4 separate regions of the Homo sapiens genome follow, and regions 1, 3 and 4 are each reported to be linked to region 2. The links are microRNA targets in miRTarBase. Many come from high-throughput screens and were not tested one by one. Region 2 holds a microRNA gene; each other region holds the end of a gene's coding sequence.

Region 1 (5,197 bases), not on the chromosome of region 2:
TGAGAGCACCTAGGAAAGGAGTCTTTAGCTTTGTCTTAAATTTCAGTTATATTAATTATACAGTACCCATCTCTTTTCCACTCCTGAATAACATCTAACATCTAGAAACTTTATGAAAATCATTATTGATTTGAGCATTTTTAACATTAACTTGTTGCCTTAGACACCAACTCTACAACATTACCTGTCATATACTGAAGAATCTCTTCTTCCAGTTATGCAGCACCTGGCTAAGAATGTAGTCATGGTAAATCAAGGACTTACAAAGCACATGGTGAGTCAATATAGTGGCATTGTAAGATGCTGAAAAGTGTAATAATTCAAACTTAATGCCTGCAAATGCCTGGTTTATTTTTAATGAGTTAATGTTTTAAATGAATACCTGTATCATTGCATCTTGTGATTTTTTTTCTTTTGCCTCTTTAATTGCTATCTTTTTGTCTTCCAGACTGTCAAGAACAAGTATGCCACATCGAAGCATGCTAAGATCAGCACTCTACCACAGCTGAATTCTGCACTAGTTCAAGATTTAGCCAAGGCTGTGGCAAAGGTGTAACTTGTAAACTTGAGTTGGAGTACTATATTTACAAATAAAATTGGCACCATGTGCCATCTGTACATATTACTGTTGCATTTACTTTTAATAAAGCTTGTGGCCCCTTTTACTTTTTTATAGCTTAACTAATTTGAATGTGGTTACTTCCTACTGTAGGGTAGCGGAAAAGTTGTCTTAAAAGGTATGGTGGGGATATTTTTAAAAACTCCTTTTGGTTTACCTGGGGATCCAATTGATGTATATGTTTATATACTGGGTTCTTGTTTTATATACCTGGCTTTTACTTTATTAATATGAGTTACTGAAGGTGATGGAGGTATTTGAAAATTTTACTTCCATAGGACATACTGCATGTAAGCCAAGTCATGGAGAATCTGCTGCATAGCTCTATTTTAAAGTAAAAGTCTACCACCGAATCCCTAGTCCCCCTGTTTTCTGTTTCTTCTTGTGATTGCTGCCATAATTCTAAGTTATTTACTTTTACCACTATTTAAGTTATCAACTTTAGCTAGTATCTTCAAACTTTCACTTTGAAAAATGAGAATTTTATATTCTAAGCCAGTTTTCATTTTGGTTTTGTGTTTTGGTTAATAAAACAATACTCAAATACAAAAGGTATCTTTTTTAAAAAGTTAGTTTACTGCTTCCTTAGGCTCTTTCTAAATCCCACCCACCTGAAGGACATCAATTATGGATTTATCCTTCATGCCTTGTATAAATACAGATGTGCATATGAATTTTTATGGGTTTTTTAAAAATGTGGTTCATTCTATATACATAACAATTACTTTCAACATACATAAGCCTACCTGTATTTGTGCATTATATTACATGGTACAGATAAATAGTCATGTGCCCCATGAACATTTTGGTCAAAGATAGATTACAGATACAATGGTGGTCCCATAAGATTATGATGCCATATTTTTACTGTACCTCTTCTTGTGCCTAGATACACAAATACTGACTTGTGTTATAATTGCCTGCAGTATTCAATAATATGGTGTATAGATTTGTAGCCTAGGAGCTATAACCTATACTATATAGCCTAGGAGTGCAGGAGGGTATGCCATCTAGATTTGTGTGAGTACACTGATGTTTGAACAATAAAATCACCTAATGATAGGTTTCTCAAACCATATCCCAGTCCTTAAGCAACACATGACTAATGGATTCAACCATTTCCCCTGTTCGTTCAGATTGCTTTTTCTTTTTGCCCCTACAATTTTGTTGATAATACTGTTTTTTGGGGCTTTTGTTTTTGTTTTTTTTTTTTTTTTTGAGACAAGAGTCTCACTCTGTCGTCAGGCTGGAGTGCAATGGCGCTATCTCAGCTCACTGCAACCTCTGCCTCCCAGGTTCAAGCGATTCTCCTGCCTCAGCCTCCTGAGTAGCTGAGATTACAGGCATGCGCCACCGCGCCCGGCTAATTTTGTATTTTTAGTAGAGACGCAGTTTCACCATGTTGGTCAGGCTGGTCTTGAACACCCGACCTCAGGTGATCCACCCGCCTCAGCTTCCCAAAGTGCTGGGATTAAAGGCGTGAGCCACCACACCTGGCCAATTTACTGTTTTATACCATGCTTTTTTGTGTGTATTCTAGGTTCCCTAAAGCAAACATGCATTTTAAATTTTGATAGAACCAGATGACATACAAAAGTGCCTGTTTTCTCTGCATTATTAAAACTGAAGGTAATCAGTCTTTTATTTCTATGACTCCAACTGGCAAAAAATATTTGCCATTTTAACTTTTTTTTTTTGAGACGGAGTCAAAAGGTGCCAGTTTTCTCTGCATTATTAAAACTGAAGGTAATCAGTCTTTTATTTCTATGACTCCAACTGGCAAAAGATATTTGCCACGTTAACTTTTTTTTTTTTTTTTTTGAGACGGAGGCTCACACTGTCACCCAGGCTGAAGTGCAGTGGCATGATCTCAGCTCACTTGCAACCTCCGCCTCCCAGGTTCAAGTGATTCTCCTGCCTCAGCCTCCCAAGGAGTTGGGATTACAGGCGCATACCCGGCTTATTTTTTGTATTTTTAGTAGAAACGGGATTTCACCGTGTTAGCCAGGATGGTCTCAATCTCCAGACTTCGTGATCGCCCACCTCGGCCTCCCAAAGTGCTGGGATTACAGGCGTGAGCCACCGCGCCCGGCCCTCAGTAGGCGATTTTTATATGTGGTATAAAGTAGAATTCTTACAGATGGATACCCGTTTATGCCAGTGCCATGACTGAAACCCTGCTTGTCCAACTTGAAATATCTTCAATGCCCATCTATTCTTCCTTGATCTTGTTTTTTCCTGTGATAATACAATAGTTTTTACCAGTTAATCAGTTAAGATGAGGCTTACCAAATATATGGGAGTACTACTGAACACTTTTCTATAAAAACTTTAAAATTGTGTACAGTTACCAAAAAGTTCCTTTGAGTTTTGTTGTTGTTGTTTTGTTTTTTGAGAGGGAGTCTCGTTCTGTTGCCCAGGCTGGAGTGCAGTGGTGCGATCTCAGCTCACTGCAACCTCTGCCTCCCTGGTTCAAGTGATTCTCCTGCCTCAGCCTCCGGAGTAGCTGGGACTACAGGCACGGGCCACCATGCCTGGCTAATTTTTTTGTATTTTTAGTAGAGACAGGGTTTCACCACGTTGGCAGTTTGGTCTCGAACTTTTGACCTCAGGTGATCCGCCCGCCTCAGCCTCCCAAAGTGCTGGGATTACAGGCGTGACCCACCGCGCCCGACCCTCCTTTGAGATTTTGACTATACATTATGTACTAGCTTGGGATAGACTGACATATTATCTTACCATCTAGAAACTATCAATCCTTGTTGCATGCCCTTCAATAACGTTGGAATTTAATTGTATAATTCTGCAACTTTCTTAAATTTATGGTTGGATTTATGCCTTTTGCCTTTTGTCGTTATTGTGAATGGGATATATTTCCCACTTCTGTTTCTTTAAATTTTTTTCTTCATCTCCCTAGTAGTGTATCCCACTCCTGTTTAGTTTTAAATAGAGACAATGTCTCTCTGTCGCCCAGGATGGAGTACAGTGGTGCAATCATAGTGCACTGCTGCCCTGAACTCCAGCTATCCTACCACCTCAGCTTTCTAGGTAGCTATCACTACAGGTGGGCCAACCACATTTGGCTAATATTTTATTTTTTCCTTTTCTGTGTAGAGATGGGGTCTCACTATGTTGTCCAAGCTGGTCTCAAACTCCTGGCCTCAAGTGACTCTCCCACTTCAGCCTCTTAAAGCACCGGGATTATAGACGTGAGCCAATGCGCCTGACGCCCACTTCTATTTTTAATATCTTATCCAGTTGACATCAGTTTTCCTTCTTTAATATTTTTGTTGTTGTTGTTGTTGAGACAGAGTCTAGCTCTGTTGCCCAAGCTGGAGTGCAGTGGCGCGATCTCGGCTCACTGCAAACTCTGCCCCGCCGGGTTCACACCATTCACGTGCCTCAGCCTCCCGAGTAGCTGGGACTAGGGGTGCCCGCCACCACGCCCAGCTAATTTTTTGTATTTTTAGTAGAGACAGGGTTTCACTGTGCCAGCCACGATGATCTCGATCTCCTGACCTCATGATCCACCCGGCAGTGGCCCCCCAAAATGCTGAGATTACAGGTGTGAGCCACTGTGCCCAGCCCTTCTTGAGTGTTTTTTATTGGAGAATTTTCTAGTCCTTAAATCCAAAAGTTTCACCTATTTTATAATATTAGAATCTCTGAAATAATCAGTGATAATAAATGGTTTCCTGTCACTGAATTGATGTCACACAGTAATAGAAACTACAAAGACCAATTAAATAGCAAAAAATATCAAATGATAAAAATACTATGTCATGTTTATTTTTTAAATTTTGATTCCATGCTGTGCTCAAACTGTGGAGTTTTTAATAGGCAAGGTTGTGGAATTCCATTAACATTTTCAGCGTATGATATCATTTTGGCTTCTCTCTTTTGATATAGTATTCCACCTTAGAGATTTCCTATTGTGTCCGAAATTTGTTCCTTCCGGTGGGTTCTTGGTCTCGTTGACTTCAAGAATGAAGCCACGGACCCTCGCGGTGAGTGTTACAGTTTTTAAAGATGGTGTGTCCGGAGTTTATTCTTTCTGATGTTCAGGTGTATCCGGAGTTTCTTCCTTCTGGTGGGTTCATGTTCTCGCTGACTTCAGGAGTGAAGCCGCAGACCTTCGACCTTTGCAGTGAGTGTTACAGTGTTACAGCTCATAAAGACAGCACTGTTCTCTTCTCCCGGTGGGTTCATGGTCTCGCTGGCTTCAGGAGTGAAGCTGCAGACCTTCCGGTGAGTGTTACAGCTCATAAAGGCAGTGCAGACCCAAAGAGTGAGCAGCAGCAGGATTTACTGCAAAGAGCAAAACAACAAACATTCCACAGCATAGAATAGAACCCATGCCCCTGCTGGCACAGGTGGCCAGCTTTTATTCCCTTATTTCGCCCTGCCCACTTCCTGCTGATTGGTCCATTTTACAGAGTGCTGATTGGTCCATTTTTACAGAGTGCTGATTGGTGCGTTTACAAACCTTTAGCTAGACACAGAGCACTGATTGGTGCGTTTTTACACAGTGCTGATTGGTGCATTTACAAATCTTTAGTTAGACACAGAGTGCTCATT
Region 2 (5,205 bases):
TCCTTTCTCAGACACAGGGGTACCAAAAAGTGATGTCATATCTTGTTTTTCCATATTCTTGTTCTTCTGGAGAGAGTTGATTCTGGAGGTGATGCCTAATATTGCTGTATCTGTTTCATGACTATGGGGCAAAGCTAGCCTGCATGGAAAACTGACATAAGATAATAGCAAAGGAGAAAGATAGGAATAACCAGATCATTGGTGACATCATTGAGCTACTGAATTACCCAACCTTGGAGCCACTCTACCTTCCAAACTTCCTCCTAGGTGCAATAACGAACTATTCTTATGGTGTAAACTGATGCACCAGAGCTTTCTGTTGTGACCAAATGCATCCTTTCTGACTAAGCCCTAGTATATTGGCTTTTGAAATCCAAGCATTGGTCCTGGTTATCACCCTAAGGAGAAACTAGGGAGGTTTCTCAAAAACGATGTTGTTTCCGGCCGGGTGCGGTGGCTCACGCCTGTAATCCCAGCACTTTGGGAGGCTGAGGCAGGCAGATCACGAGGTCAAGAGATCAAGACCAGCTTGGCCAACATGGTAAAACCCTGTCTGTACTAAAAATACAAAAATTAGCTGGGCATGGTGGCACACGCCTGTAGTCCCAGCTACTTAGGAGGCTGAAGCAGGCAGACCACGAGATCAAGAGATCGAGACCAGCCTGGCCAACATGGTAAAACGCTGTCTCTACTAAAAATACAAAAATTAGCTGGGCATGGTGGCACGTGCATGTAGTCCCAGCTACTTGGGAGGCTGAGGCAGGAGAATTGTTTAAATCCGGGAGGCAGAGGTTACAGTGAGCCAAGATCACACCACTGCACTCCAGCCTGGCGACAGAATGAGACTCCATCTCAAAACAAAAGCAAAAACAAAGGAACAAAAAAAGGGTGGTGTTGTTGCTAAGCCTTCCAGAAGTTCCTTGGTAAACTGAATTCCCTGTTATTGCCTACGATCCCATGATGTGACATCAATCAATGTTGCAGAGGCATAGGAGCCTGCCCTAGCCTTTAGCATTTGCCAAATAGTTGACTTCATCAGCCCTCTGTACCCTCTAATAAAGAACCAGTGGCACATCACAAGCCAATCAAAAACTCCTTTGCGTGGCAGCGTTCCAGTTCTTCTGAGACCTAAACTCTGTTTCAAACAAAGTGGCTGGAGTTTCTGGGATTGCTGGCTTTTGTGGCCTGTAGATCTGAATAATCCCATAAAATATCCCTTCAAAAGAAGAGCACGAGTGTTCTGAGGAGCATGTTGGATATCAGATGTGAGACCCAGCGTACGAATGAAACGGTAATAGATGATGGAAAGTGCAAGGAGACTTGGCAATCAACCTATTAGATTGGTGCAAAAGTAATTGTGGGTTTTGCCATTATGTTGAAAGGCAAAAACCGCAGTTACTTTTGCACCAACCTAACTAGGCCCTATCTTAACATCAGGTGATGTTACAGTCCTTTCCTCTTGGAAAAATTTGTCCTTTTATTAAAAAGTGGCATGGCTTCTCATACATTAGAGGTATCTTAGGAATGTAATTTTTTATTCTCTGCAAATCTATATAAAAGCAACATGTACCCAACATGGTCTTAAGGGGATAGGATGAAATTTAGTAAAAAAAAAAAGTTGGAACTTTACCCATTAGTAACTTTACTAAGAATGAAATGGGAGAGGGGAGGTCCACAGAATAAAGATAAGTCATATTCCACAAACAAGTGCTTTGCTGGCCATGCAACTGTTAGCAGGTCACTTAGATAATCCAGCTTTTGGTTTACTCACCTAGCATGGGGGTGCTGGACTTGACCCACAGCCTGTGCTAGATTACACTCTGTCAATTTGGCTAAGGCTGGAATTACACAAAGGATAAAGATCATTAAAAGTGTTCTATAAACCATAAAGCACTACGTAAATGAGACTTTTTTTTGAGATGGAGTCTTGCTTTTGTCGCCCAGGCTGGAGGGCAGTGGCACGATCTTGGCTCACTGCAGTCTCTGCCTCCTGGGTTCATGCGATTCTCCTGCCTCAGCCTCCCGAGTAGCTGGGATTACAGGCACCTACCACCATGCCCTGCTAGTTTTTGTATTTTTAGTAGAGACAGGGTTTCACCATATTGGCCAGGCTGGTCTTGAACTCCTGACCTCAGAGGATCTGCCTGCCTCAGCCTCCTAAAGTGATGGGATTACAGGTGTAAGCTACTGCGCCCAGCCCTGAGACTTGTTTTAAAAGCAAATGAAGTGGCCAGAGGGTGCTCTTCCTACATGGACTCTTATGCCACAGTTCTAAAGGGAAGATGGATTATCAAACTGGGCCATGAGGCAGCATAACTAATGAACTATTATGATAAGCAGAGATCTCACTTACTGACATGTCCTGGATACCATGCACTGAGCTAAGTGCTTTACAGACATTGCCTTTTTTTTTTTTTTTTCCTTTTGAGACGGAGTCTCTCTCTGTTGCCTGGGCTGGAGTGCAGTGGTGTGATCTCTGCTCACTGCAACCTCCACCTCCGGGTTCAAGCGATTCTCCTGCTTCAGCCTCCCAAGTAGCTGGGATTACAGGCATGTGCCACCACATCAGCTAATTTTTGTATTTTTAGTAGAGATAGGGTTTCAACATGTTGGCCAGGCTGGTCTCAAACTCCCGATCTCAAGTGATACACCTGCCTCAGCCTCCCAAAGTGCTGGGATTACAGGCGTGAGCCACCGCACCCATTGACATTGTCTTTAATACCCAGAATGACCTCACAGAGGAAGCATTTTCTGATGAGGACACTGAGACTCAATCTCAATAATTCTTGAGGTCACACAACTTATAAGTGACAAGCCAGGGTGCAAACTCCTCTCTGTCTTGCAGCAAACATCATGTGCATTCTACCCCACTCTGCTATATCAACCAGAAAATCAGAGATAAAGACTAGGTAGGAGAGCTCCTTTATGCACATTAAATTATTGGCCAGGTGGGATGGCTCATGTCTATAAATCCCAGCACATTAGGAGGCTGAGACAAGAGGAACACTTGAGGCCGGGAGTTTGAGACCAGCCTGGCCAACATAACAAGGCCCCATCTCTACAAAAAAATAAAATAAAAAAATTAGCCAGGCCTGGTGGTGTGTGCCTCTAGTACTAGCTACTTGGGAGGTAGAGGTGGGAGGATCATTTGAGCTCAGGAGTTTGAGGTTGCAGTGGGCTATGATCATGCCATTGCACTCTAGCCTGGGTGACAGAGTGAGACCCTGTCTTAAAAAAAAAATTTAAGACAGTAAAAAATTGTTTTAATTCTATTCTTCTATCTATTTGAATAACCTTCTTCTTATCAGAGCAGTTGTGCCAATGTTTGAGGCAGAAATATATATATATATATAAAACATATATTTATGTATATATAGTCACCATACTTATACCTACAGATAAAAATAGTTTTATGGGAAAGTAAGTGGTACAAATGGTGCATCAAGATGACATAATCTGCAGCCATTAACAATGAAAATCATTACGATGCTTTAAAAACATGAAAAAATGCTTAAGAAATCCAGTGAGGTAAGGAAAAAAAAGAAATAGCAAATGGTATGTACACTGAAGTGAATACAGTTGGTTTTTTTTCTTCTTCTTTTTTTTGAGATGGAGTTTCACTCTTGTTTCCCCACCTGGAGTGCAATGGCATGACCTCGGCTCATTGCAACCTCCGCCTCCTGGATTCAAGAGATTCTCCTGCCTCAGCCTCCCCAGTAGCTGGGATTACAGGCATGCGCCACCACACCCAGCTAAGCCTGGCCAACATGATGAAACCCCATCTCTACTAAAAATACAGTTATTAAAGTTGTTAAAACAGTGTTTTCACAGAATAAAAAGCGCTGTAGGCCAGGTGTGGTATAATCTCAGCACATCGGGAGGCCAAGGCAGGAGGATTACTTGAGCAGCCCAGGAGTTTGAGACCAGCCTGGGCAACATAGCAAGACTCTCTTAAAAAAAAAAAAAAAGGAAGAAAATTCTGTGTGCAAAAAATGGACCTTTGAATTGACTAACAACCACAAGCCAGATTTTGACCTGCTGCCTGTCTGTACAGCCTGTAAATACAGACACACTCCTCCATTTCCACATAGTCTGGGACTACTTTCATGCTACAAAGGTAGAGCAGGTGGCCTCCTGGACCACAAAGCTTAAAATGTTTGCTATCTGCTCTTATAGAAAAAGACTGTGGGCCCTTGATTTAGAGCATGGGATTATGAATATGTCCCCTCCCCCAATTTTCAGTAAGTGTCCACTATGTAATTGCAGATGAAGAGTGAACCAATACAAATCACCCACCACTAACATTTTAGATTTAGATTTCCTTAATTTCCACTGAGATTCACCCAAAAGGTATTTACAATTTTGCTGAGAAGAGAACTTAGCTGGTTGCCATGGCTAATGCATAGAATCCTAACACTTTGGGAGGACGAGGCAGGAGGGTAGCTTGAGGCCAGGATTTTGAGATCAGCCTGGGCAACACAGTGAGACCCCATAGCTACAAAAAAATAATTTTAAAAAACTAGCCAGGCATGGTGACATGTGCCTGTAGTCCCAGCTACTTGGGAGGCTGAGGCAGGAAGATCACTGGAGCCCAGAAGTTCAAGGCTGCAGTGGACTAAGAAAGTGCCACTGCACTCCAGCCTGGGTGATGTAGCAAGACCCTGTCCCCCAAAAAATAATAATAGTAGGCTGGGTGTGATGGCTCACACCTGTAATTCCAGCACTTTGGGAAGCCAAGGTGGGCAGATCACGAGGTCAGGAGATCAATACCAGCCTGGCCAACATGGTGAAACCCCGTCGCTACTAAAAATACAAAAATTAGCTGGTTGTGGCAGCACGTGCCTGCAATCCCAGCTACTCAGGAGGCTGAGGCAGGAGAATCACTTGAACTCAGGAGGCGGAGGTTGCAGTGAGCTGAGATCGCACCACTGCACTCCAGCCTGGTGACGGAACTAGACTCTGTCTCAAAAATAATAATAATAATAATAATAGAACTTAGATTGGAAGTGCTTAGAGGTTGTGTTTGTATGGGAAGGGGCCGCATGTCTGATGTGTGAGCCTCGTACGCTGCTGGGCATCCTCACAGCCTCACATCTCTGTGGGTCTCTGTTGTATTCATGAATGACCACATCCTATCTTTTTCAGTGAAACTAAATAATAGGATGCAGTAATTGCTACCTCAAATATCTACAATGGCGGACAGGT
Region 3 (5,205 bases), not on the chromosome of region 2:
AATTCTTTTTTCTTCATTTCGCCTCTGTCCAGTTTCTCTGACGCCCCCTGATGGTCAGTCTGTGAGTGCTTCGCTCACGCATTCATTCAACAAGTGAAATTAATTTAATGGATGCCTAATGTGTGCTCATTGCTTTCCGTCCCTGGGATATAGCAGAGGACAAATCAAAAGTTCCTTACCAAATTTACATTTTGCGGTGGGGGAGGGACAGGATACATAATAAAGAAAGTATGGAAATTTTATAGAGCCAAAAACTATACAAAGTAAGGGAGGAATGAAATTCTATTTCAGATTGGAAGATCGGGTCCATGCTCATAAAACATATTAGCATTGTTGGCCGGGCGCGGTGGCTCATGCCTGTAATCCCAGCACTTTGGGAGGCCAAGGCGGGCGGATTATCTGAGGTCAGGAGTTCGAGACCAGCCTGGCCAAGATGGCGAAACCCTGTCTCTACTAAAAATATAAAAATTAGCCTGGCGTGGTGGTGTGCGCCTGTAGTCCCAGCCACTCGGGAGGCTGAGGCAGGAGAATCATTTGAACATGGGAAGCAGAGTTTGCAGTGAGCCGAGATCCCACCACGGCACTCCAGCCTGAGCAACAGAGGAAGTCTCTGTCTCAAACAAACAAAAAAGTGACCGTTGCTAGGACTGGTTTGCCTGCAGCAGGAGTGAAGACAGGTCAGGTATAAGGGAAGACCTCTAGGCAGGAAGAAACTGGGGAACTGGGGAAAGTTGTTAAAGACAAAATCTCCAAACTAAGGAACAGGCAAACTGTGTTCTGCATTTTTGCTTAACAGCTTGAGAAAATCACTGGTGGCTGCTTATTTAAAAGTAAGCAAGGCCAGGTGCAGTGGCTCTTGCTGTAATCCCAGCACTTTGGGAGGCTGAGGCAGGAGGATATCTTGAGACCAGGGGTTTGAGACCAGCCTGGGCAACAGGGTGAGACCCCACCATCTCTACAAAAAATTAGCCAGGTGTGGAGGTGTGCACCTGTAGTCCCAGCTACTCTGGAGACTGAGACAGGAGAATTTTTTTTTTTTTTTTTGGAGACAGAGTCTCGCTCTGTTGCCCAGACTGGAGTGCAATGGCACGATCTCGGCTCACTGCAACTTCCGCCTCCCAGGTTCAAGTGATTCTCCTGCCTCAGCCTCCTGAGTAGCTGGAATTACAAGTGTGACAAGCACATGCCATCACGCCCAGCTAGTTTTTGTATTTTTAATACAGATGGGGTTTTACCATGTTGGTCAGGCTGGTCTCAAACTCCTGACCTCATGATCCGCCCGTCTCGGCCTCCCAAAGTGCTGGGATTACAGGCGTGAGCCACCGCACTGGGCCTGAGACAGGAGAATCTCTTGAGCCCAGGAGCCAGAGGTTGCAGTGAGCCGAGGTCAGGCACTCCAACCTAGGCAACAGACCAAGACTATGCTCAAAAAAAAAAAACAAACAAAACAAAAAGCTGAATTTGTTACTCGATGCTCTGCTGTCTGATTTGTTTGATCCTGCATCATACTTTTGTGATTAATTGCAGTTACCAGGCACTACTGTTAGGAAATGAAACATTGTTCTTATTAATAGCCACAAGTGGATCTACATCACTGACTTTTTTTTTTTTTTTTTTGGAAAGGGAGTCTCGGAGTCTCACTCTGTCGCCCAGGCTGGAATGCAGTGGCGTGATCTTGGCTCACTGCAGCCTCCACCTCCTGGGTTCAAGCAATTCTCCTGCCTCAGCCTCCTGAGTAGGCGGGACTACAGGTGCGTGCCACCACGTCCAGCTAATTTTTTGTATTTTAGTAGAGACGGGGTTTCATCATGTTGCCCAGGCTGGTCTCAAACTCCTCAGATGAGGCAGTCCACCCGCCTTGGCATCCCAAAGTGTTAGGATTACAGGCATGAGCCACCACACCTGGCCTGACCTCTTGAATGCATTGTTTTCTGTTTCTGAGATGGACTGTGAGCACCCCTGGCACCTCGGAGCTTCCTAACTCTGTTTTCCTGGGTCACAACTGGAAACTTTTTAAGACCTTTACCTAACAGGCTACTAATATAATCATTCTGTTTCCTTCCCTACCCAGACCTTCTCTGAACTGGCTGAGTCTTTTGACACCTGGCTTGTTCTCTTGCTAGTAAATTGAAAACCTTTGGCGTATGCTTAAGTTCAATTTGTCTCATATATTTTGTTTTATAGTAAAGGTGTGGGGCCTCCTCTGACCAGTCTGAGAGGAGCAACTTGTAGTGGTAGAAGGACTATAACTATTCAACCATATCTTTGTTAGCCTGGAGAGCTAACAACAAACAAACAAATTTTCCTGATGAGTAAAATATTGATGTTCCACATTTGTATAAGATATTCTTTGAAATGGGAAAATTCCAAATATCAACTACATGGGCACCAAAGCCATGCACTATCAAGATGGTTTTTAAACCTTTTTTTTTTTTTTTGAGATGGAGTCTCACTCTGCTGCCCAGGCTGGAGTGTAATGGCGCAATCTCAGCTCACTGCAAGCTCCACCTCCCGGGTTCATGCCATTCTCCTGCCTCAGCCTCCCGAGTAGCTGGGACTACAGGTGCCCACCACTATGCCCCGCTAATTTTTTGTATTTTTAGTAGAGACGGGGTTTCACCGTGTTAGCCAGGATGGTCTCAATCTCCTGACCTTATGATCCGCCTGCCTCGGCCTCCCAAAGTGCTGGGATCACAGGCGTGAGCCACCGTGCCCGGCCTTTAGGCCTTTAACGATATAAAATCCATTGTCTATCAGAGGGGAACCTTTTCCAGGAAACTGACTCTTGTACATACTTACTTCATTTTGCAGCAATTTCAGATTTAGTATTCGTAGCCCCAGCTCTTTAAGTAAGTATCCCTGGATTAGCCACATGGGTTGTGTCATACACTACCTAGCTGCCTTCATGGCAGCAGGCTTCTGAATACTAGAACCCTTCAACTCAAAGTGTCCTCTGTAATATTTTAACCCTTTTCTTCTATTCATTCATTTGTTGTCATTCATTCTAGAAATAATTCCGTGTCTACTAGTTGACAGGTACAGGATATTGCAGTGAATCCAGCTGATGTAGTCAGCCCTCATGGCACTTCCAGTCTAGTGGACACTTCAACTGCCCTTTCTCATGTCACCTGCTTGTCCTGCGTGAAACCCACGTGCAGCTTCCCAGACCCCTTTTGACATGTCAGTGCCGAGTTCCTGGTTCATCCCCCATCATTTTCCTCTCCCCCAGCCACCAGAGCCTCCCCTCACATACCCTTTTTTTTTCCCAAAGAAGGAGAAGCAGACGAGTTGAAGAGAACTCCATTTTATTATGGAAAGTTAAAAAACAAACAAAACAAAACAGGCAATTGATAAAGGCGGCACAATGGGGAAGGAGAGGTGAGGTGTCTCCTTAGCCACCCGACACCATCTCAATTCAGTTCAATTGTGAACCACTAGGAGAAACAGAATTAAATAACTATCAAGGGGTACAGAGTTAAGAGTTCCAGCCTTCCCTCTTGGGGAAAACTAAGGCAAAGTAATACTGAGAAAAAGTGGAGGAAGCCACACCTTCAGGTCACTCCAATGAGGAGACTGGAGGGGACAGAGGAGAGAATTCCACGCAGACACAGCAAGTAAGCGTGGCTTGTAAACCTGGGACTTTGGCAGGTGGGGCTGGGAGCTGATGGAATTTGTAAACCAGGCTGTGGTCAAGGGAGGAGGCAGGAGCTGTAAACAAAGGGGCAGTGACCTAGGAAATGAAGGAGATGTGCCTATAAATGGAGTGGGGTCTGGGCCTCCCAGAGAGACGAGTGCTTAAATCCCGAGAGTCCCCACGGGATGGTGGGGAGGAAGGCTGTGGGGAGAGTGTACCCTGCCATGGGGGGCAGGTGCTCCATCTCCACCCTCCAGGGAGTTCTGTGCCCCTTCTCAGGACTTGGCGCTCACTCTTGGATGACCTAGGATGCACCAGCACGTTTAACCCCACCCACACCAGGGACTTTGGATTAGGGTAGAAATTGGGCAATTGGCTCTGCCCCCAGAAACAGGGTGGGGAAAGCAAGTTACAAGATGTTGGTTGCCCTTCCCTGCCAGGCTCATTATCAGGGTCTGTCTGCCCTGAATCTTCCGGGCTCCAGGATCTTCAGTTATAAGAAGGAGGGAGGTATATCCCTATGTTGGAAGATGGTCACCGCCGGCAGGACTCATCTGTGGGAGAGGGGGCAATAATGTTAGAGAATGAGTGAGAGCCTCTGCCTTCTGCCCACCCTTCCCCCCCACACAAATTGAAGGGCAGTTGGCATGCAGGAAGTCCTATAATATCTTCCATATCTAAAGCATGTTACCACCAGTAACCACATCCATCACTCATTTAGCTCGGACTCTGTGCCAGGCATCCTTATAACTGTTTAATCTCACCATAACTCCAGGAGAGATTAAGTAATATGATATCCAGCTGTGGCTCTTGGTGCTTCACAAAAAATTACTTAATCTTGGCCTGGAGCACCTGTAATCCAAGCAATTTGGGAGGCTGAGGCAGGAGGATCACTTGAGGTCAGGAGTTCAAGACCAGCCTGACCAACATGGGGAAACCCTGTCTCTACTAAAAATATAAAAACTAGCCAGGTGTGATGGTACACATCTGTAATCCCAGCTACTAGAGAGGCTGAGGCACAAGAATCGCTTGAATTTGGGAGGCAGAGGTTGCAGTGAGCCAAGGTTGTGCCACTGCATTCCAGTCCAGGCGACAGAGGGAGACGCTGTCTCAAAATAAATAAATAAATAAATAAATAAAATTACTTAATATTTTCTACAAGTCTAGGAGGTAGTTTTTGGTTTCTGTTTTTTTGAGACAGAATTTCACTCTGTCACCCAGGCTGGAGTGTAGTGGCGTCATCTCGGCTCACTGCAACCTCTGCTTCCCGGGTTCAAGTGATTCTCCTGCCTCAGACTCCCGAGTAGCAGGGATTACAGGTGTCCACCTCCATGCCTAGCTAATTTTTGTATTTTTAGTAGAGATGGGTTTTCACTATGTTGGCCAGGCTGGTCTTGAACTTCTGACCTTGAGTGATCCACCTGCCTCGGCCTCCCAAAGTGCTGAGATTACAGGCGTGAGCCACCGTGCCTGGCCTGTTTGTTTCTTTTGAGACAGGTCTTCCTTTGTTGCCCAGGCTGGAGTGCAGTGGGTGGTGCAATATTGGTTCACTGCAGCCTCCAACTCCTGAG
Region 4 (5,000 bases), not on the chromosome of region 2:
CTGTGCTGTCTTGTCAACTTGCTGCTGAATCAGCCTGCATTGACATTCTTTGCCTTTCTGTGTCTTCTCTATCTTTACTGTTTCCATTAGATCCTCCTACTACTACCACCCTTCAGCCTACAATTCAGTGGCATCCCTCAACTGCTGACATCGAGGATCTAGCAACAGAACCTAAAAAATTGCCCTTCCCATTGTCAACTTTGGCAACAATTAAGGATGACACAATTGCCACGATCATTGCTAGTGTAGTGGGTGGGGCTCTCTTCATAGTACTTGTAAGTGTTTTGGCTGGAATATTCTGCTATAGGAGAAGACGGACGTTTCGTGGAGACTACTTTGCCAAGAACTACATTCCACCATCAGATATGCAAAAAGAATCACAAATAGATGTTCTTCAACAAGATGAGCTTGATTCTTACCCAGACAGTGTAAAAAAAGAAAACAAAAATCCAGTGAACAATCTAATACGTAAAGACTATTTAGAAGAGCCTGAAAAAACTCAGTGGAACAATGTAGAAAATCTCAATAGGTTTGAAAGACCAATGGATTATTATGAAGATCTAAAAATGGGAATGAAGTTTGTCAGTGATGAACATTATGATGAAAACGAAGATGACTTAGTTTCACATGTAGATGGTTCCGTAATTTCCAGGAGGGAGTGGTATGTTTAGCAACCACTGAATGTGACTTAACTATGTACAATGTTCATTCACACTAGTTGATCATTTTCAGATTGTTCATACTTTTTCTTGAGGAAGAATAAGCTTTTTCAAGTTGATTTTCAAGCTTACTTTTTATATTCTAATCTGACAAATGAAAATGTAAAATCTGAGTTCAGTGTATCTAAGCTGCTTTACAATTTTTTTTCAATGCTGTACTACTGTCTCAAGATTTAAATTTTAATGCAGAGTACTTTATTGGTGTGAGGCACACAGGTAAGAAGAAATGTCAACATTAAATGTATGACTTACTTGGTACAAAAATTTTTTAAAAAGGGAACTACCTTGACATTGTGTATTAAATGTTTACCTAAGACTATAATCTCAAGTATGATGTTTGTTTAACATATACCTCTCAAAATTTATCACCACTCAATGACACTGCATCAAAATTGACTATAAAACTAATTCAAGAAATATTTATATATATTTTTTAATATACAAAAAATATTTAGCCTGATGGAATGGCTTTCCTTTTCAAACATTATTTTCTAAGTTTCTATACAAATGAAATCTTTACCTCTGCATATTAATGAGCCTTGCCATAATTACTGTAGAGTGGCTTTTCAAAGATATTTTGTTGCACTAAAACTGTGGTAGTAAACTCAGTGAACATGATGTGTGGAAGAGCATAATTAGCTGGTCAATATTTTTGTCCAAAATACCTGCAAGAGTAATAAAATACATACCTTTCAAACATGATAATTATTAGTTTTTTTTTTTCCTTTCTGGAACATGGATTTTGGTACATTAGCAGTAGCCTTATTTTAATGCTTTATGTCCTAAACATACTAATAGAAATGAAAAGACGCAGAGAGAGCATTTCGGAATACTGAAGTACTAGTTTTAGAAATGAGACTTTCAGCCAACAATCTATAGAAAGAATTTTATGGACCATCTTGTTTTAGTTATTTAATGTTGATGTTGTTCAAATGGGTAAATGTACAGAAAGAAAATTTTAGAGTAAACTTGGAACTTTGGATATAACTAGAAAAAACTAGATTATAGAATTAGTCGGTAACACTTGCTAATGGACATTGGCATTCATCTCCTTTTTCCTCCTAAGTGTATGTATGTGTTTTAAGATTTCTGTTTTTACGATTAAAACTGGAAACATGAGGTTTTTTGTTTTTGTTTTTTTACATAATTACATATATTCCTTCTGAATCATTTATCTTTTGAGAAAGAAATGTTACCTAAACTTCAAATGTGCTTTTTGTTTGTGAGGTAATTAAATTGCTTCTACAGTGGAGGCTTACAAAATTATTGTGACAACTATTTTGAAGCTGAAAGGATAGTTTTTCTATTGCTAAGTCATTTGAAAAAGTGACCATTTTGCCAGTGAAATGAAGTGGAAGTTAGTAGGAGAATCATAAATTAAATATATTATTTTGTTAATAAAAAGGCAAAGTAGTAGGTACTTTTTAAACCCTCCCAACCAGCCCTTTCTCAATATTCATCAAATCTAAAACATTTAGGGGGCAAAATTCTAACATGTTCATGGTATCTTGCAAATAGTGAAAGCTTTATTCTGAAGGATTATAAACTAGTTTTCTTCATTTTAACTAGCACTATTTTGTGGAAATTAGAAACCTCTTTTATTTCTCTTCCCAAAAGTAATACTTATTATAAGGCTGTAGTATCAGGTTAAGGATACAGATAAATAAAGTTCACTTATATCTTCTTACAAATGTCTGGGTTTTAATATGGTTAATCACTTATATACAAATATTACAACTTTTTAGTGCAAGTTTTTGGAAGAAAACTTTTTGATAAAACACTGTGATTGATGTGACTTTATTTTTAATTTAAACGATGAGGTGGCCAGAAGAAAGATGGGTCTAAAATTTCTCCCCATGAAAGATGTAAAACTATGGCTTTTTTTAAAATCAAAATTTCATCTTTTAAAATAATGGTTTGAAATACTGTATGGATCTGAACAGAATAATCACATTTAGGATTCTATATAAATCTCAACTGGAGTATAATCTGAAGGAAATTAGCAGTGTATTTTAAGAAATATATTTCAAAAATATAAATACTGATTATGAACTTCCTTTTACATTGTGGTTATTTGTGCGATTAGGTTTTTTTGTTTGTTTCTTTTGTGTTTGTTTGGCGGGAGAGGGTGACCTGGAAAGCCACAAGTGAGTATTTGACATATTCTGTATCCTTAATCCAATCATTTGGCAAACTAAAAGGTTTCTGTGTTGTAAGAATCTGATACTAGTGCTTAAGACTTTGGGAAGCATTGCACTGTTGTTTATTAGAACTTTATGTATATTTACTGTACATAGAGACTTGTTTGAAAACATGAATAGTCATTAAATAAAGACATTGTTAAATTAGTTTTTGAATACCAGTGATATTCATAACTACTTGACAGGTATATATGAAAATTCTACTATCGTGAAAAAAAATGAATATTTGTACTATTTTTGGCCATATTTATATTTATTTCTTTCATATGGTTTGAACTGTTTTAGCATTTTGTAAATTCACTTGAGAGTTTTCTTTCATACTGGTTAAAATATTTCAATGATATAATGAAGATGAATGCAACTCTTATTTTTCTGCCATTTTTTATTAAAATACATTGAAACTAAAGTAGGCTCGGGGTTAACTTTAAAAGTGATATTTGAGAAGTGCTTTAGAGTTGAAAGATTTAGTATTTTACCACGTGCCTAGTAGGGTTCTATTTGCTAACTCTAATATTGAGGAAACTATTAAGGTTTTCAGTAGTAAGTGTTGCTTCTAATAGCCATATACAGGAAAGTTTTATAAGATAACCCACGGCTAAATATTTTGCATTAAGGAGCTGTAGGAGTACAGTGTATAAGTACAGAAATTGAGAGAAATGTAGTCATTTTATATGTGAAAACATCTGATTTGAGTTTTTGATAAATACTGCTAAAACACAGTATATGAACAAGTAAGAAGTTTATGTATGAAAGTAATCAATGTAAAATATAAGAAAGGAATAAATGGTACCCATTTTGAATTTTTAATTCTAATAGGAGAGTAGATTGTAGATTGAATTGTCTTTCCTGTTTACTTGTTAATTAGAAAATGCATCCTTCATAAACAGCTCCTTTCTCAAATTTTTTGTATATTGTGTTTGTGTTTGGGTTTTAGTTTGTACCCGCGCTAAGTTTTGGTTTTGTTGTGTTTGGTGTTTTTTGTTTTGTTTTGTTTTGTTTTGTTTTTTCTTTTTTAACCAACCTGTGTATTAGGTGTTAGCCCCAATAGCCATGCATGAAATCTTTAAATAAAAGTTAAAAAAGTTCTTTAGAGGCATATTTCTGTAATAAGTTCATTGCTCTATGTTACCATCTTTGTCCTCGTATTTACTAAAGTGTGTGTGTATGTGCGTGTGTAACCTAGTTTATTTTAATTATCAAAATGTAATTAATGATTTGTGGGAATCAGAAACCTGTTTTCCTAAAACAAGACTGTAATATCAGATTGAGGATAGTTGGCATGTTGGCCACTGTAAAATTTTTTCCTTTTTTTTTTTTTTTTTTTTGGTGGTTGGGTTTTTTTCTTCCACTTTTAAGTTCAGGGGTGCATGTACAGGTTTGTTACACAGGTAATGTGCCATGGTGGTTTACTACACAAACCCATCACCTAGGTATTAAGCCCAGCATGCATTAACTATAATATTTTATTTTTGATTAACCATTTAATTCCCAATCATGAATTAACATTCTCCATAGTTATAAATTATCTTATCTCTGTAGCCCTAGCTGTTAAAACCCATTTTATATGTTTTTGCTATTACTTTGGCATAAGCCAAATTTTATATATTGGCTTTCAATTTGGAATTAACACATTTCATAAGGTATTTCTTAAGTTGACATTTAGTGTTTTTTACTTACTACTTTTTGTGAGCTACTTTGATTAGAAATGCCATTGCTTTGAATTGTTTATAATCACCTTGTGATGCATCACTTTGTTTCCTATTTCTGGCTTTTTAAATTGTATTTTTTAAACTATTTTTGACCAGGGTTTTTCTTTGATAATACACAGTTAGACTGGGTTGTTTTGTTCCCTTCTTGGTATCCCAATAAAAAAAATTCATGCATGAAACAGTCTTTGAGGGGTTTGCACAGTAAACCAACTTTCATCTGTTTTTAAAAATGCTTTTCTGTTTATATATTTCTGGGTTTTTTTTCTGTTATAGTCCAGTCATCTGCTTTTTTGTAAAGTACATATATACTTTGACTTGACACTTTGACTTGAGTAGTGTTAGGTTTTTATCAAGAGCTTGAAACCAAAATT

Evidence for each region. Region 2 holds the annotated microRNA hsa-miR-548w (AAAAGUAACUGCGGUUUUUGCCU, at 1,381-1,403, opposite strand). A microRNA usually pairs through its seed, bases 2 to 8, with sites in the 3' UTR of a target mRNA and lowers its output. Matches are read on the target gene's strand: a 7mer-m8 pairs with bases 2 to 8, a 7mer-A1 pairs with bases 2 to 7 and ends in A, and an 8mer does both.
Region 1: the mRNA of CCNB1 is a reported target of hsa-miR-548w. Seed matches in the 3' UTR shown: 7mer-m8 at 635-641, 7mer-m8 at 663-669, 8mer at 837-844 and 7mer-m8 at 1,031-1,037.
Region 3: miRTarBase lists PPP1R18 as a target of hsa-miR-548w. Seed matches in the 3' UTR shown: 7mer-m8 at 3,515-3,521.
Region 4: the mRNA of NECTIN3 is a reported target of hsa-miR-548w. Seed matches in the 3' UTR shown: 7mer-m8 at 788-794 and 7mer-A1 at 911-917.

Annotation. Positions count from the first base shown.
Region 1 is chr5:69,177,076-69,182,272 of GRCh38, forward strand. CCNB1 (cyclin B1) reads left to right here. Exons shown (of 9, transcript NM_031966.4): 8 at 164-274; 9 at 449-1,170. The coding sequence ends at 556. It overlaps LOC112267932 (a long non-coding RNA gene), which reads right to left. Exons shown (of 2, transcript XR_002956215.2): 2 at 4,379-4,927. Among named protein-coding and RNA genes, the nearest start is that of CENPH, 9.9 kb to the right of the region's middle.
Region 2 is chr16:26,021,444-26,026,648 of GRCh38, reverse strand. MIR548W (microRNA 548w) reads right to left here and starts at 1,412; the gene lies at 1,339-1,412. The region is part of intron 1 of HS3ST4 (heparan sulfate-glucosamine 3-sulfotransferase 4); the gene reads right to left.
Region 3 is chr6:30,673,101-30,678,305 of GRCh38, forward strand. It overlaps PPP1R18 (protein phosphatase 1 regulatory subunit 18), which reads right to left. Exons shown (of 3, transcript NM_133471.4): 3 at 3,289-4,188. The coding sequence ends at 4,169. Among named protein-coding and RNA genes, the nearest start is that of DHX16, 2.7 kb to the left of the region's middle. RefSeq lists an enhancer at 1-217 and a silencer at 1,859-1,998.
Region 4 is chr3:111,133,545-111,138,544 of GRCh38, forward strand. It overlaps NECTIN3 (nectin cell adhesion molecule 3), which reads left to right. Exons shown (of 6, transcript NM_015480.3): 6 at 91-4,016. The coding sequence ends at 671. Among named protein-coding and RNA genes, the nearest start is that of NECTIN3, 64 kb to the left of the region's middle.